Linked DNA regions of Homo sapiens. The protein of the gene in region 1 purifies or fractionates together with the protein of each later gene. This does not show direct contact. Each region holds a gene or a part of one and is shown in the gene's direction. Other genes may lie near its edges. The genes, in order: FAM9C and MYO18A.

Evidence for each region.
Region 2: the proteins of FAM9C (region 1) and MYO18A purify together in Homo sapiens (co-immunoprecipitation; 2 studies listed by BioGRID and IntAct, with this or other methods). This does not show direct contact.

Annotation. Positions count from the first base shown.
Region 1 is NC_000023.11:13,034,681-13,041,620, reverse strand, and holds the end of FAM9C (protein FAM9C), read left to right. Parts: intron 1-748; coding exon 749-863; intron 864-1,704; coding exon 1,705-1,813; intron 1,814-3,117; coding exon 3,118-3,180; 3' UTR 3,181-3,205; exon of another isoform or gene 3,206-5,602; 3' UTR 5,603-6,004; downstream 6,005-6,940.
Region 2 is NC_000017.11:29,177,199-29,185,245, reverse strand, and holds the start of MYO18A (unconventional myosin-XVIIIa), read left to right. Parts: upstream 1-4,847; 5' UTR 4,848-4,933; intron 4,934-8,047.

The DNA of each region.
Region 1 (6,940 bases):
ATTGTGTATTAAGTTATTTCTACCCTTTTGATGGTCTTATTAAATCAGATACTTTTTTGTGCTTTACATAATGAGTTGTGACAGTATTTCACGGAAACATGTCCTTTGAATTGTAGGACATTTTATAAATGTAGAAATTAAAGTCTGTGGCTGGGCACGGTTGCTCACACCTGTAATCCCAGCACTTTGGGAGGCCGAGGTGGGTGGATCACGAGGTCAGGAGATCAAGACCATCCTGGCTAACACGGTGAAACCCCGTCTCCACTAAAAATATAAAAATTAGCCGGGCGTGGTGGCGGGCGCCTGTAGTCCCAGCTACTCGGGAGGCTAAGGCAGGAGAATGGCGTGAACCCGGGAGGCGGAGGCTGCAGTGAGCCAAGATCGTGCCACAGCACTCCAGCCTGGGTGACAGAGCGAGACTCTGTCTCAAAAAAAAAAAAAAAGAAATTAAAGTCTGTGTTTGTAACCCTTTCTGCACACTTAAAAAATAGAAACTTTTAATTATTTGCTTTTTTTCATTATCTGTCAATTAAGTGATTTGCTGTTATACCAACTGAAATTGGAATACTAATACCTGAAAGGTTTTACATAAAGTAAGTAAATCTTGCTTTTTGAAATGATCTTTGCATTTTACATTTTAAATGTCCTTCTGATATTGCTGAACCATCAAGTCCCATATTGATTTTAATATATGCAAAGAAACTACTTTTCAACATGAACATTTAATGCATATTCATTTACTATCTAGCTGACATTAAAGAGCATCTTGCTGCAAAGAGAAAAAGGATTGAAAAGATTGCAAAAGCTTGCAGCGAAATAAAGAACAGAATTAAAAATGTTTTGAGAACAACACAACTAAAAAGGTATGATTGTTGGCTTTTTTGAATAATGATATTTATATCATTTCTTTGTATTCATTGGTGCAAATAATTTCCAGAACTATCCTGTACATATTGGTGTCTCTAGGGAACAACATATTTTACTTGATTGTTCCCTAAACAGGTAAGTTTCTTTAGTTTTATAACCTCAATTTAACAGAATTGAGAGATATTACCTAGAAGCCAATGAAGATGACCTCTTTTTGCCTTCCAGATAAAAAGTCTTCCTGTAAAATTAATGTTTATCCATTTCTAGAAATACGGTAGGTGAATATAAGATAAATGTCTTCAACGTTTAGTCTGTAGATTCTTAACAATATTCAATTATGTAGAAAGGGATAACCTTGTGTTGTAAATAAGTTATTTATTTTAGTTAAATTGTTTTCACTATTCCTTTTAGATCATTGTCGTGCCAAAGTGGAGAAATAGTTAAGTGAAGTATTTCTTTCGGGAAATCTTACGGGATGAATGGCTATGATATTCTTGCACCTCCTTATGAGAACGCATATGTTATTTAGTAAGAAGAAATGAAAAGTAAACTGCTCTTGGAGAAAAAGATTGTTTCTGGGAAATTTATAGTGCAGTAAACCCTCCTTTGTCTTCAGCAGGTAAAGAATGTAAGATAGCTGCTCTAGTAGTCAGTTAGGAAGGGATCCTTTCAGAATGACAGTAACTCATTTCACCTTTTCCCAAAAAGAAGATTTCAGCTGCTATTACTCCCTTGCTACTTTATAGTACAAACTATGTCAAGTCAGTTTTGGTTTGAATAGGATTAATTTTTCATCCCTCTATGACGTATGACCTTGTTACTTATTATGTGTTACAGGCAGAAACGTGATTATAGAATTTCTCTGAAGTTGCCGAATGTCCTTGAAGAGTTCATCACAGATGAGCAGAAAGATGAGGAAGGAGATGGAGAAAAGGAAGAACAAATTGTTGGTATCAGGCTTAGCTTTATGATTAACCTATTGTATCAATGTCTCAGGTAGTAATAGTTCATGCAGAAATCCAGCAAAGAAGGAAGAGAGCATGAGCCCAGAGAGGGTCGCCCATTAGTGGACTCATGGACTAGGGGAATATAATTGCCATGCAGCATTAGGGGTCCAACTGAAGTCAGCATCATAGCGATGAAGAAGTTAAAGTGAACTCAGTTGGCATATTTGTGCAAGAGCAGCTGTAGGGTTGGAATTTCCTGGGTTGGGGTGTAGCCGAGCATGTTGATAGAGGGAGAGTTGGACAGGGCATAGAGGCAGGGATGGGGTTATGATGACTGGCTGTGGAATTTCAGCTGGGGCTGAGTTACCTGAGCACATGGGGGTGGGGCATTGGGCAGTGAAAAGTGCTCCATTCAATAGGCGTCAGGTCCCTACAGACTCCTGAGCTGTAGTACTGAAGTGAGTGACCTACAGTGGCAGGAAGGTAGTGGCTGTATGTTGGGAAGATGGAGAAACAGATGAGTGCAGTGGTCAAGGGCTGCGACTCTGGAGCCCCACTGCTTGGGATCCAATTCCAGTTTGACCATTGCTAGTTCAGGAACCATGGGCATATTATTTATCTCTGTGCTAAAGTTACTTTATATACGAAAGGAGACATGGTGAGGGTACCTATTTCAGAGTTGTTTGGAGGATTAAAGGGTTCCTGTGTAACAGGTTTATTTAAATTTTTCAGGATGCGATCTGACCCATGGTTGCTGTTTATCATTGCTATTATTAATATTATGTAGATACTGCAGTCACTGGGAATGACAAAATTTAGGGGATGACTGTGAGTGCCACGTAGAGGAGAGGAGAACACTATTGTTGGAGATTAGGTCAAGGTGCAGAAAGGCAATCATTAATGGAAGGTTTATCTATGTACATATTGAAATGACCAAGATTTAACAGGTGTTTAAAATCTTAGTAAGAAAGAATGTTTCTTAGTTAATTTCTGTATAGATCTTACCTATCTGTGGTCAACAAATTATAGGAAGGGTCATCAAATACTCTTCATTTGAAATCAAGAATTAAGACGTATGTGTTGAATATGTATAAGAAAGAAAATTCTTTACTCCATGACTGATGAAAAAGGTTATTGTTTTAGCACATGAGTGGTGAACACAATTGTTTCAAATTGGTCATAAACGTTGTCTAAAAGAAAGTGTTCAGAAGTATTGATTTAAAGAGTATTTCTTTAATGCAGAATGTTTTATAAGTATTAAAATTTACCCAATTTTAATCACTTTTTTGTTTTGTGCCTCTAGAAAATATTTCAAGAGCAACAAAAGAGGTGGCAACAAGATGGGAAAGGAACTGAAAGAGATTGAGCCACCACACGAGCAATTCACAAAGGTCTGTTCTATTTGGTAACACAATACGTTCTTATAAAATACAACACATGCATAAAAATAGAAGACAATCTGCTTGTTTCTGAATGTATGGAAAGACATTTTGGTTATACATTTTAAATTACTTACCATTTTCACTTTGAATGTGTTGTTCCAGATTTAACATAAGTAGTAAATAACATAAAATAACATAAAACAGTATTTTTAGGATTCATGAATAGTTTTGTAGGAGTTATTTAGAACAGGAAAAGGTAAATTGGAAATTTTACCTAGAAATATACATCTTGTGTATAAAAATTGATACCTTATGAACACATTAATGAAGACTTTATTTTCAGTTTTTAGGAGATCAGCGACAAATCTTTAGTGGAAGGCAGAAAGTCCATAAGTCCTTTCTGGATGTCTTTTTTACTTGTGTTGTTTCAAGAGTTTTAGTTAAATAGGAAGTAGGCAAATGTAACTACTGAGTATCTCTTTTGTTTTCTGCTGTAATGTAGGAGTGTTTTATGGCATATTCACTTTCAAAATTATTAGTGACTAGTAATGGTTTTACATGACAATTTGTAATCATAAGAGATGGTTCAGATGTATAACAGAATGGGAAAGCCAGCAGATTATTAACATGTTGTGAATTGTGAATTATCTGCTGTCGTACAGCACATTAGCAAATTGTCATCGGACAATGACCGCTTCTTCATGTAGATGTATATTATTTAGGAAGCAATGGAATTCCCTTCTGGGAGGTAAGATATTCTTTTTAATAACCTTGTGGAAAGACATGTTCATATGTCACTCCTCTACACTAACTGAGATGTGTTAAATAAACTGGGAAAAGAGTTTGAAAATAGAATTTTCAAGCAACTCAAAGATTATCTATACACAAAACGGTTATTTATATAGAAGTCACAAGTAGAGAACATGTTGCTATAATGTTCCCCAGAAACCATTTATTAATTGGTATGAACATGAGACTAGAAAAGTTTTCCTGTCAATGTTAATGCTACATGTTACCACTTAGGGTAGGAACTTCGGTATCATCTTGGACTCTTCTGAGTCCATTATCTTTCACATACAGTTTTCATGAGGCAAGTTTTACTCTGCAATGGTCCTTAAATTTCTTTTTTTTAAATTGCCACTGAGGCAACCCTAGTTCAAGAACTCATTCTTCCTTGCTTGTACTATTAAACTCTTTTCTGAGTTCTCTCTTCTCTTCTGAGCCACCCTTCATTGATCAGAAATACTATCTTCCTAAAACTCTTCCCTTCCTAAAATGCTTCTAGCCCTTCACTCTTCCCAGCCTATCAGTGGTATCCACATGTCAGTTCTTAGATATTCAGAGACTCTCCCCTTTACATGACCCCCTCTTAGGCTTGTTTTACTGCCTTCTGTCTTTCTTCCCGCCTCTCCAGGTTGACAGCCTTCTCTGAACGACCTCTCCATTACTCTCATGCTTTGCTCATGCTCTTCCCTCACAATGCTTTTAAAGTCCTTTTTTTTTTTTGATCGATTGAAATCTTTTGCCAACTAAGTGGACATCAGTCTCCATTTTTGGCTACATGTCCGAGTGAGTTGCTCTTCCACAGCAGTTACATAAGTTTTGTATTATTTTTTTTATTCGTGCATATTTGCTCATGTCACAGGAATATGGAAGAGATTGTGTATTCATTTTTTACATCTTCCTCAGCATTAACATACCACTTTTTAGGGAGTAGGAACTGTTGAACTATTTGTTGAGAGAATAGTATATATTTCAAACATAGTTATGTTTTCTCTAACTTGATGAGGTCATGTCACAGACCATTTTATCCCTTCAGTGGAAACCATGTTATGTCGACTATTAGTGATAACAAATGGGTCACTATCTGGTGAAAAAATATGGTATTTCATGATCTAAGACTACCAGTCTTTTTCTGTTTTTGCTCCATCTTGACCATAACATATTCATCAAACCATTTTCTTCAAGCAAAGTACATGACTGTTGGACCTGCTATAATAATATTTCACTAAAATCTGGCATTAAAAATTTTAAGTATTTGGAGCTCCATGTACTGATTACAGTTTTTAAATTTGAAATAAATGACCAGCATCCTTTGAATATTAAAAGCTGTTTCCTTTTGACATTTAATTTACTCTCTTTAAAATGTGAGTTGTAAAGTGATGGTTTGTCAGTGAACTAGACTTTTTGTTTTAGAGTGTGAGGACTTGGAAGAGTATAATGAAAGCCCTCTTTTTGGTGAAGAGAGTCAACTTAAAAAATAAATTGCCATGTTCCAAAATAATATTGTGGTAATTGTAAGTAGTGCATATTTTATCTTAAAAACTCAGGATTGATGTAAGCACTGGAATATTTTATTTGTAGAAATGTGTATCGCAATTACTTAAATTTATTTTTTTGAAACAGCTGCAGCAAGAGTTGGCACTTATTCAGATGTATCTTCAACCTCTGTTATTCTGGTGACTGACAAAAGAACTTGAACCTATGTTATATGATACATGCATAACTTGAGCTACACTAAACCACATGACAGTGTTTAGTTAATTCTTGTATAAATTAGTATATCTCTTCTATTATTAGTCTGTTTGTTAAATGCCAGACCACGTTTCTATGATCTGTTGAATGAACCCTAGACAGTTCTGTGAGAAAGCAGCAATTGCACAGTTACATACACAGTCAATTAAATTTTAACATTAAAGATAATTTAGTTTTAGGTTTGGCCTCTGTGGATCTGTATCAGTTCCAAAATGTGGAAAGCACGGGCATGGAAAAGTACATTTTTCTCTAATAAAAGAAGACAAACCCTTATTTTATCTGTGCATTCTTTGTATTTACTCATTAAGTTAAAGAAGCAATTCCAATGAAAGCAAGACTTCAAAAAATAGATAAACTCTGTGGCCTTTCAAAATTATTAAAAGTACCTTAACATCTGTGTTCTTGAAAAAATTAAACTACTATAAATGATTGAGACAACTGAGCAAGATATATTAATATCAGTGCTGAGCCACCGGCTTCTGGGTATGTCATTTCCACAGACATCAAATTGCCATTTGGTTTGTTTTGGTCCACCATTCAGTGATATCTCCCCTTAACATTGATTCAAAGTATTTTATTAACATTTATGTATGCTTACAATTATTTCACATCTGTGGCAAGGTAAATTATGTAGGGTGCTTTGTTTTTCGAGTTTAGTATTTGTGGAGTATGTGGAAGTTTAAGTATACATGCATCTAAAAACTTAAGTGATGAATTCTCCTACCTTTCCTTTTGTAATGTGCAGTTGTTACATGTAACAACATACAAAATGTTCATTTGGAAACACTTTATTTAGTAAATATGAAATTCAGAATATATTTGGAGTAAGTCAGTTAAATGTATTCTTTTGCTGAGTTTCTGAAATTCCATTCATGAATTGTTCAAAACACAATACTCCCATTGGGAGGAGAGGAGCGACTTCCTCTCATTTTTCCTTGTGCTTTTTATTTTAATTGGCCCCTATATACCACTCTTGTTTTTCTAGGTTTTCCAAGTTTAAGAAAAAAAGAAAAACAAGTTCATTCAGATTCTGTTTTTCTGCCTGCAATCACTTATGCAGGAATAAGTGAGTCCTTATGGGGAGCATTTAATTCCTAAAGTTTGCATTTTCATAAAGGATTTTCCTTTTACCCAAAGCATGTGTTGGTGTATAAGTCTAACTACTACTTCAAGTTTCTAAGAAGATCCTCATTTGAGATCTGCAGAGGT
Region 2 (8,047 bases), on another chromosome or scaffold:
TGGTGAAACCCTGTTTCTACTAAAAATACAAAAAGTTAGCCAGGTGTGGTGGCGGGCGCCTGTAATCCCAGCTACTTGGGAGGCTGAGGCAGGAGAATCGCTTGAACCTGGGAGGCGGAGGTTGCAGTGAGCTAAGATGGCACCATTGCACTCCAGCTTGGGCAACAAGAGTGAAACTCTTCCTAAAAAAAAAAAAAAAAAAGAGTTGTTAATATACCTATTCATTTCACTGCCATGGTGTAGGGAAAAGAATGGGCTTTGGAGCCTTAGGGACCTCAGTTTGAATCCTGACTCTGCTACTCTTAGGCTGGGTACAAGTCACAAAGCTGTCTGTGCTTCATTTCCACAACTATGAGTTAGGAAAGATAACCAAGCTAACAGCTATAGAATGCTTACCATGTACTGGGCATTGTTCTTTTTATATATTAAATCATGTAATTTTTAAAAATTAATAAATACAAGGCCGGGCAAAATGGCTCACGCCTGTAATTCCAGCACTTTGGGAGGCCAAGGTGGGTGGATTACCTGAGGCCAGGAGTTTGAGACCAGCCTGGCCAACATGATGAAACCCCATCTCTACTAAAAATACAAAAATTAGCCTGGTGTGGCGGCACATGCCTGCAATCCCAGCTACTTGGGAGGCTGAGGCAGGAGAATCACTTGAACCTGGGAGGCAGAGGTTCCAGTGAGCTGAGATCACAGCACTGCACTCCAGCCTGGGTGGCAGACTGAGATCCTGTCTCAAAATAATAATAATAAATATTATTTTAAAAATCAGTTTAAGTTCACAGCCAAATTGAGCATAAAGTACAGAGATTTCCCATATGCCCCCTGCCCCGACACATGCACAGCCTTCCCCACGATCACACTCTTCACCAGAGTTGTACATTTGTTACAATCGATGAACCTACATTGACACATCAGTATCCCCCAAAGTCCATGGTTTACATTAGGATTCACTCTTGGTGTTGTACATTTTGTGGGTTTTGACAAACACATAATGACATGTATTCAACAGTGCGGTATCACACAGAAGAGTTTCACTGCCCTAAAAATCCTCTGTGCTTTGCATTTTCATCCCTCCCTCAACCTTAATCCATGGCACCACTAACCTTTTTATTGTCTCCATAGTTTTGCCTTTTGCAGAATGCCATATAGTTGGAATCATACAACATGTAGCCTTTTCAGATCAGCTTCTTTCACTTATTAATATACATTTAAGTTTCCTCCATGTCTTTTCATGGCTTGATAGCTCATTTCTTTTTTAGTGCCACATAATATGCCATTGTCTAGATATACCATAGGTTATTTGTCCATTTACCTACTGAAGTTCATCTTGGTTGCTTCCAAGTTTTGGCAATTATGAATAAAGTTGCTACAAACATCATGTGCAGGATTTTGTGTGGACATAAGTTTTCAATTCATTTGGATAAATACCAAGGAGTGGGATTGTTGGATTGTATGGTAAGAATATGTTTCATTTTCTAAGAAACCACCAAACTGTCTTTCAAAGTGGCTATACCATTTTGCTACCAGCAGAGAATGGGAGTTCCTGTTGCTCTACATTCTTGCTAGCATTTGGAGTTGTTGGCATTTCGGATTTTGGCCAAAATCCAAATTTAGGTAAATAAAGTAGTTTTACCTCATGGTCATCTTAATTTGCTATTCTCTTTTATTTTTTATTTATTATTATTTTTTGAGACGGAGTCTTGCTCTGTCACCCAGGCTGGAGTGCAGTGGTGCAATCTCGGCTCACTGCACCCTCTGCCTCCTGGGTTCAAGTGAATCTCCTGCCTCAGCCTCCTGAGTAGCTGGGACTACAGGTGCATGCCACCACACCAGGCTAATTTTTGTTCTTTTAGTAGAGACAGGGTTTCACCATGTAGGCCAGGATGGTCTGGATCTCTTGACCTCCTGATCCACCTGCCTCGGCCTCCCAAAGTGCTGGGATTACAGGCGTGAGCCACTGCACCTGGCTTTAATTTGCTATTCTCTAGTGACATACAATGTTGAGTATCTTTTCTTTTGCTTACTACTATCTGTATATCTTCTTTGGTAAGGTGTCTGATCAGGTTTTTTACCCATTTCTAAATTGGGTGGTTTTCTTATTGTTGAGTTTTTAAAACTCTTTGCATATTTTGGATAACAGTCCTTTATCAGATGTCTTTTGCATATTTTTAGTAGAGACGGGGTTTCACCATGTTAGCCAGGATGGTCTCGAGCTCCTGATCTCATGACACACCTGCCTCAGCCTCCCAAAGTGCTGGGATTACAGGCGTGAGCCACCGCACCTGGCTTTAATTTGCTATTCTCTAATGATATACAGTGTTGAATATCTTTTCTTTTGCTTACTGCTATCTGTATATCTTCTTTGGTAAGGTGTCTGATCAGGTTTTTTGCCCATTTCTAAATTGGGTGGTTCATTTTCTTATTGTTGAGTTTTTAAAACTCTGCGTATTTTGGATAACAATCCTTTATCAGATGTCTTTTGCATATATTTTATCCCAGTTGTGGCTTGTCTTCTCATTCTCTTGACAGTCTTTTGCAGAGCAGACATTTTTAATTTTAATGAAGCCCAGCTTATCAGCTCTTTCTTTTATGGTGCCTTTGGTGTTGTATCTAAAGAGTCATTGTGATACTCAAGGTCATCTAGGTTTTCTCCTATGTTATCCTCTAGGAGACAGTTTTATAGTTTTGTGTTTTACATTTAGGTATATAATCTATTCTGAGTTAATTTTTGTGAAGGGTATAAAGTCTGTGTCTAGACCCCCCCCTTTTTTTTTTTTTGCATGTGGATGTCCAGTTTGTTGAAAAGCCCCATGTGTTGAAAAGACTAAGCTTATATAATTTTCAAAACAAATTTTGAGGGAGGGAGTCACTGTTATTATCCCAATTTTTTGGATGAGCAAAGTGAAGCACAGAGAGGTGATTTATAAAAAATCACCCAGAGTAACACAGCTAGTACTTTACAGAACTGAGATTTTGAATCCAGGCAATCCAGCTCCAGAGTCCATGCACTCAACCCCTATCTATAATAATAATGTCTCCCTCATAGGTTCATTGTGAGGAGTAGAGATAGTGTCTAGTATATAATAGGTACTCAGGAAACACTAATGATAGTCGTTGTCCTACTTAGCCTGCAAGGTTCCGCTCAAATGTCATGTTTTTGGGGTTTTTTTTTTTTCTTTTTTGGAGACAGAGTCTTGCTCTGTCGCCCAGGCTGAAGTACAGTGGTGTAATCTCCGCTCACTGCAACCTCTGCTCCCCAGGTTCAAGAGATTCTCCTGCCTCAGCCTCCCAAGTAGCTGGGATTATAGACATGCACTACCACGCCTGGTTAATTTTTTGTATTTGTAGTAGTGATGGGGTTTCGCCATGTTGGCCAGGCTGGTCTTGAACGCTGGCCTCAAGTGATCTGCCCACCTCAGCCTCCCAAAGTGCTGGGATTACAGGCATAAGCCACCATGCCTGGCCTCAAATGTCATGTTTTTGAAGCTGCTCTTCTCACTCCTCAAGCCAAATAAGCCTCCCATCATAGCACCTATCTCATCATCCAAGTAATGCCAGCATGGTGAACCCTACTACTGTCACAGCTCAGGTCTACCTGTTCCCCATGTGATTTCCCTGGAGATATGCCATGTCTGATCTCCTTCTGTGTCACCCCAAGTGCCTGGGGCTGCACTTGGCACTTAGCAGGCAGTTTGTTAAATTGAATTTGAGTTGCATGTTATTCCAAAATGTGTATCCCGCCTGGGTCTATTCCTCAGGAACTCCCTAACTCTTACTCAACTCTCTGCTTTCTGAGCCTCCTTGCTCCAGCCTTCCCTGGTCTGTCAGGTTGGGCTGCCCTTGCCTGGAGAAGTTCCTGTTTGGGCTGTCTAGGGAGGTAGCAGCATTTGTCTGCTACACCCTTCTTCCTGCACCACCCCACTCAGTTTCTTCCACATTCTGGCACACCCCACTCCAGCATGGACACTGCCCAGGGAAGTGTCCCCATTTCTTTCTTTCTCCAAACTCTAGACATAGCACCTATCTTGGAGGCCTGGTATCTGGATGTCCCTTGGCCTCTCCCAGGAAGTATAAACTGTCTTCTTGGTGGGTACAGCAGCTCACTTGATATTTACAGCACACAGTGGACCCAGGGACAGACTGCATTCCAAAGAGCTTCTGAAAGTGTTAATCTTGGCATTGGTGAACTCCTTTAGGGAGTGAGTGGCACTTACAGCCATGGCTCCCGGGCCCTGGTACGCCTCTTGATCCACTCCATTTTGAGGCAGGGCTGTATCAGACCAAGCTATTGGGAGTCTGTTTTTACCTTGGGGAGTGCATTCTGGCAGTGCCATCTCGGACATGGCAGGCAGTACCTGGTCTGGACTGAGCCTGGGGCACCATCCAGCAGGGCCCTGTGTGTGCCTCTGCAGAGCCACCTTGGGAGGAGGCGGCCAGTAAGACTTAATTGCTTCCTTTAGACAGCACTACCTTGAACACAGCCTGCAGAGTTCGGTGCCTGCCTTGGACAGCCCCTCTTCTATACGTTCATCATGACCCTGGTGCCTGTCCTAGGCAGTGCCACTCAGCCCCTTTCGGACCCTTTTCGGACAGCCTCCAGTGCCCAGTGCAGACAGAAACTCCAGGCAGGGCCTCTCTCAGACACAGCGAGAGGGGCTTCGGAGTCCACAGCGGACGGAGGCTGCCAGGGCAGCGCCCGGCCCGCCTGGCCCACGTCTGGCGGCGCGCACTGGCGCTGCCAGGCAGGCCGGGCGTTTATCCCCACAGCCGCCAGCAGGGAGCTCCCTTTCGGCTCGGCCTGCGCGGTCGCTGGGGGCGGCGCTGAGCTGCGCCGCGCTGCGCTCTGCTCCATCCCTGACCGGGCCGAGGCTGCTGGATGCCGCGTCTCCGCTTCTGCTGCCTGCCGGGCGGGCTCCGGTGGCCGGTGAGTGCCGGTCGGCGGCGGCGGCCGCTCGGTGGCGGGCCCGGCTTGGTGGGGCGGCGGGGCGGGCTCCGGCCGGGAGGGAGGGCGGGCGGGCGGCGGGGCCCGCCGGCTCCTCCTCCTCCTCCCCCGTCCCCTGGAAGCAGCGGCCCGGACTCCCGGCTCCCGTCCCTGGCGGCGCCGTGGAGCTCGACGCCCGGGGGTGGGGGCCGATCGGGAGCGGCGGGGAAGGGGGAACCACCGGCCCTTCCAGCCAACCTGGGGGGCGCAGGGAGGCAGGACAGGGTGGCCTTCAGTGTGGGGGGATTTGGGGCTTGGAGGCGCCCAGGTGGCCCGGAGCTGCGGGGTGGGGGCTGCAGCCTCGAGGGTGGGGGGACTTCTCCTGCCCCCGTCCAGGCCCCACGATGGAGCGAGCGAGAGAGCGGGGCGCTGAGGAAGGCAGCGGGGAAGGGGAGCACCTCTACCGACCCTTTTATCCCTCCCAGCGGCCTTCACTCTTTCACTGCCGGGCAGACTGCGGGCTCCTCTCAAAGGAGCAGCTGCTAGACAGCTGGCAAAACAATGGAGACCCCGCTTCCCTGGGCCCCCTCCTCTTGGGACAGAAGATGAGAGGGTGAATGGTGGCAGGCTTTGGGGATTAGGGAGTGCAGGCTGTGCCCTGAGACTGAATGCTCACCTCACCTTTCCCTGCAGAGGGGTGGGGTGCGTGTGGGAAGGTCGGACAAGCTGCCCCAGGCCTCTGGAGAGACCGCCCCGACGCCCCGCCCTGCTAACCTGTCATGCCAGTTGTTTCGCCAATGGGAAGGGGAGGTGGTAGGGGTGGCTGCCCCCTCACCCTGCCCCTTGTTAGTGGGGGTGCGCTCCTTGGTCCCAAACCCGGCCAGGAGTGTGGGTCATGTTCCTGGGTGCGATAAGGCCCGCAGGGACAGGCCAGGCATTGGGGCTTTGTTTTGGGGGTGGAGATGGGGGAGTTGCCCTACTGCAAGGCACATGTGTCTTGCTGATTAGTTGGAAAGGTTGCGGCCAGAATGAGCTAGAGGTGGGGGGTGGGGGAGATGGGGAGGAAGACAGCCAGTTTGTTTTTGAGCGGGTATTCATTTTGCCTGACCACTTTGCCAATGGGGCATGTGTTTGGCGCTGGCCTCATAGTTTGTATTTGTGTGGGGAGGGCTGGGGGAATGCTTCCTGAGAGGGACTGTCCTGGCTAGGGCTTTCATTCCCTCAGATGGCCACCCCGAATTAAAGAATTGGATTCCCTCCCTGCTTCACCCTGCCAATGACTTGGGCTAGTTAGTGTGGGTTCGTCTTGTCTTTTGGAGCCCCTGGCGTGTCTGTGGCCGAGAAGGCCTCATCAGTGCCCCTGTGGCAAGTGAGCTCTGGGAAGTGTGTATGCACTGGGGTGTGCTGGAAGGGAGGGGAGGCCACCTGGGTGATTAAGAGCAAGATCACCTGAGCAGGACGGTGAGTACAGAGCCCATTGAATCAGCCGCCTTTCCCTTGTGCTTTGGAGCCCTTTTCTTGAGCAGGTTGGTGCCCTGTTGTTGTGGCAACAGGCCTGGCCTAATGTTCCCCACCCTTTTTAGTTCAGGGGCTACTTTCTATCTGGAGATATTGAAAGTTGCTCTCCTGAGGTCTCTGGCTTCCTGACAAGCCTCACTGGCTCTTTGTCCATGGCTTCCCACCTCCTCAGCTTCCTCTCTGTTTTTTTGTGATGAAGTCTTTCCAGGAAACATCCTCCTGGTTTCTGGATTTGACATGACGGGTTATATATAGCCTCGGGTGGAGGTGTGCTTGTCCATTTTGGGTTGAGGACATGGGGGTTGTGGCCTCAATTCCAGGAAAACCATGGCTTTGGGGGCAGCTATTGTGTTGAGGGATTAGGGGAATGAGAAGGGTTGTAGGTGGGGGTGGAGGGTGGGCATGGGAGGGGCCACAGGCTGGCGGTCACTTCCTTTGGGAGCTTTGAACTTTGAACAGTTGATGACCTGGTGCCTGGTAGCTCTGAGTGTCTAGTTTGTTTACTCTCTCCTGGCCTGGCCCAGGTGCCAGAGTGTGTGCCTGAGGGCTTCCTCCTGCGCCCCAGACTTTCCTCATGTGGGTTATGCCCTTCCTGACTCCCACCTGGTCTCTCAGCCTCACTCCTGGGCTGTCTGGGTAGCCAGCCAGTTCCCTGGAGGCCCCCTCACTGGCCCTGGTAGTGGCTATTCATTGAGGACTGCATGTGTCTTCAGAAACTGGGCCTGAAAACTCTGGGTCCCCCAGAGGCAGGTACCTAAAGGTGGACTGGGTGGGGCAGAACTGGGGCTCATGTGAAAGGGAGAATCCACCCTGCTGAGGTGGAGCTGGGAGTTGTTGGAACTCAGGAAGCCTTCATCTGGACTTGCTGTGTCACAGGTCTTCAGGGCAGCAGGGCTGTTCTTAATCCTTCAAACCAGAGGTCTCTCCTCAGCCAGATCCTCTCACCTGGGGTGGACGCCACAGGCAGGAGCCAGAGCATCCACGTGAGCTGGGTTTTGTTGGTGGCCTGGGGTCCCAGGCCTGAGTGTGGTGGGAAAACTGAGGGGCTCTGGCTGGTTGTAGTTTAAAGGTTTGGGGCAGTAGGAGGGCCCAGCCCACTGTCTGCTGTAATTGACAGGTTCCCACAGGACTTGGGATTGGTAGGGCAGCTTGATGGAGTTTAAGTTCTGCTTTGGGTCAGACCCCCGGGTGCTTTAAGATCTGCACACCCCACCCCATCACCATTTCTTCCCCCTAGCATTTTCCAAGGTGGCCTGAATTAGAGGAGTTGGGGAGGTGCCGAGGTAGGAGCTGGATTGGGAGGGGTGGTGAGCAGACCTGGTGAGCCTCCACTTCCCACCTTCACTTCCCTGCCCTTCTTTTGAGGTAGGAATTGCAGGGCTTGTAAAATGTCAATTTCCCTTGACATTTTAAACAGTTTAGAGTCAGGCAGCAGTTTTGGTTGTTAGACTGATGATTTTACAGGACCCAGGGCCCTTTCTGTCTGCCAAGTAGTTTATCATCACTTACAAGAGATTATTGTGATTATTCTCTAATATTCAGAGAGGTTGGATGATGGGCTGAAGGTCACACAGCAAGTCAGAGGCAGAGCGGGATTAC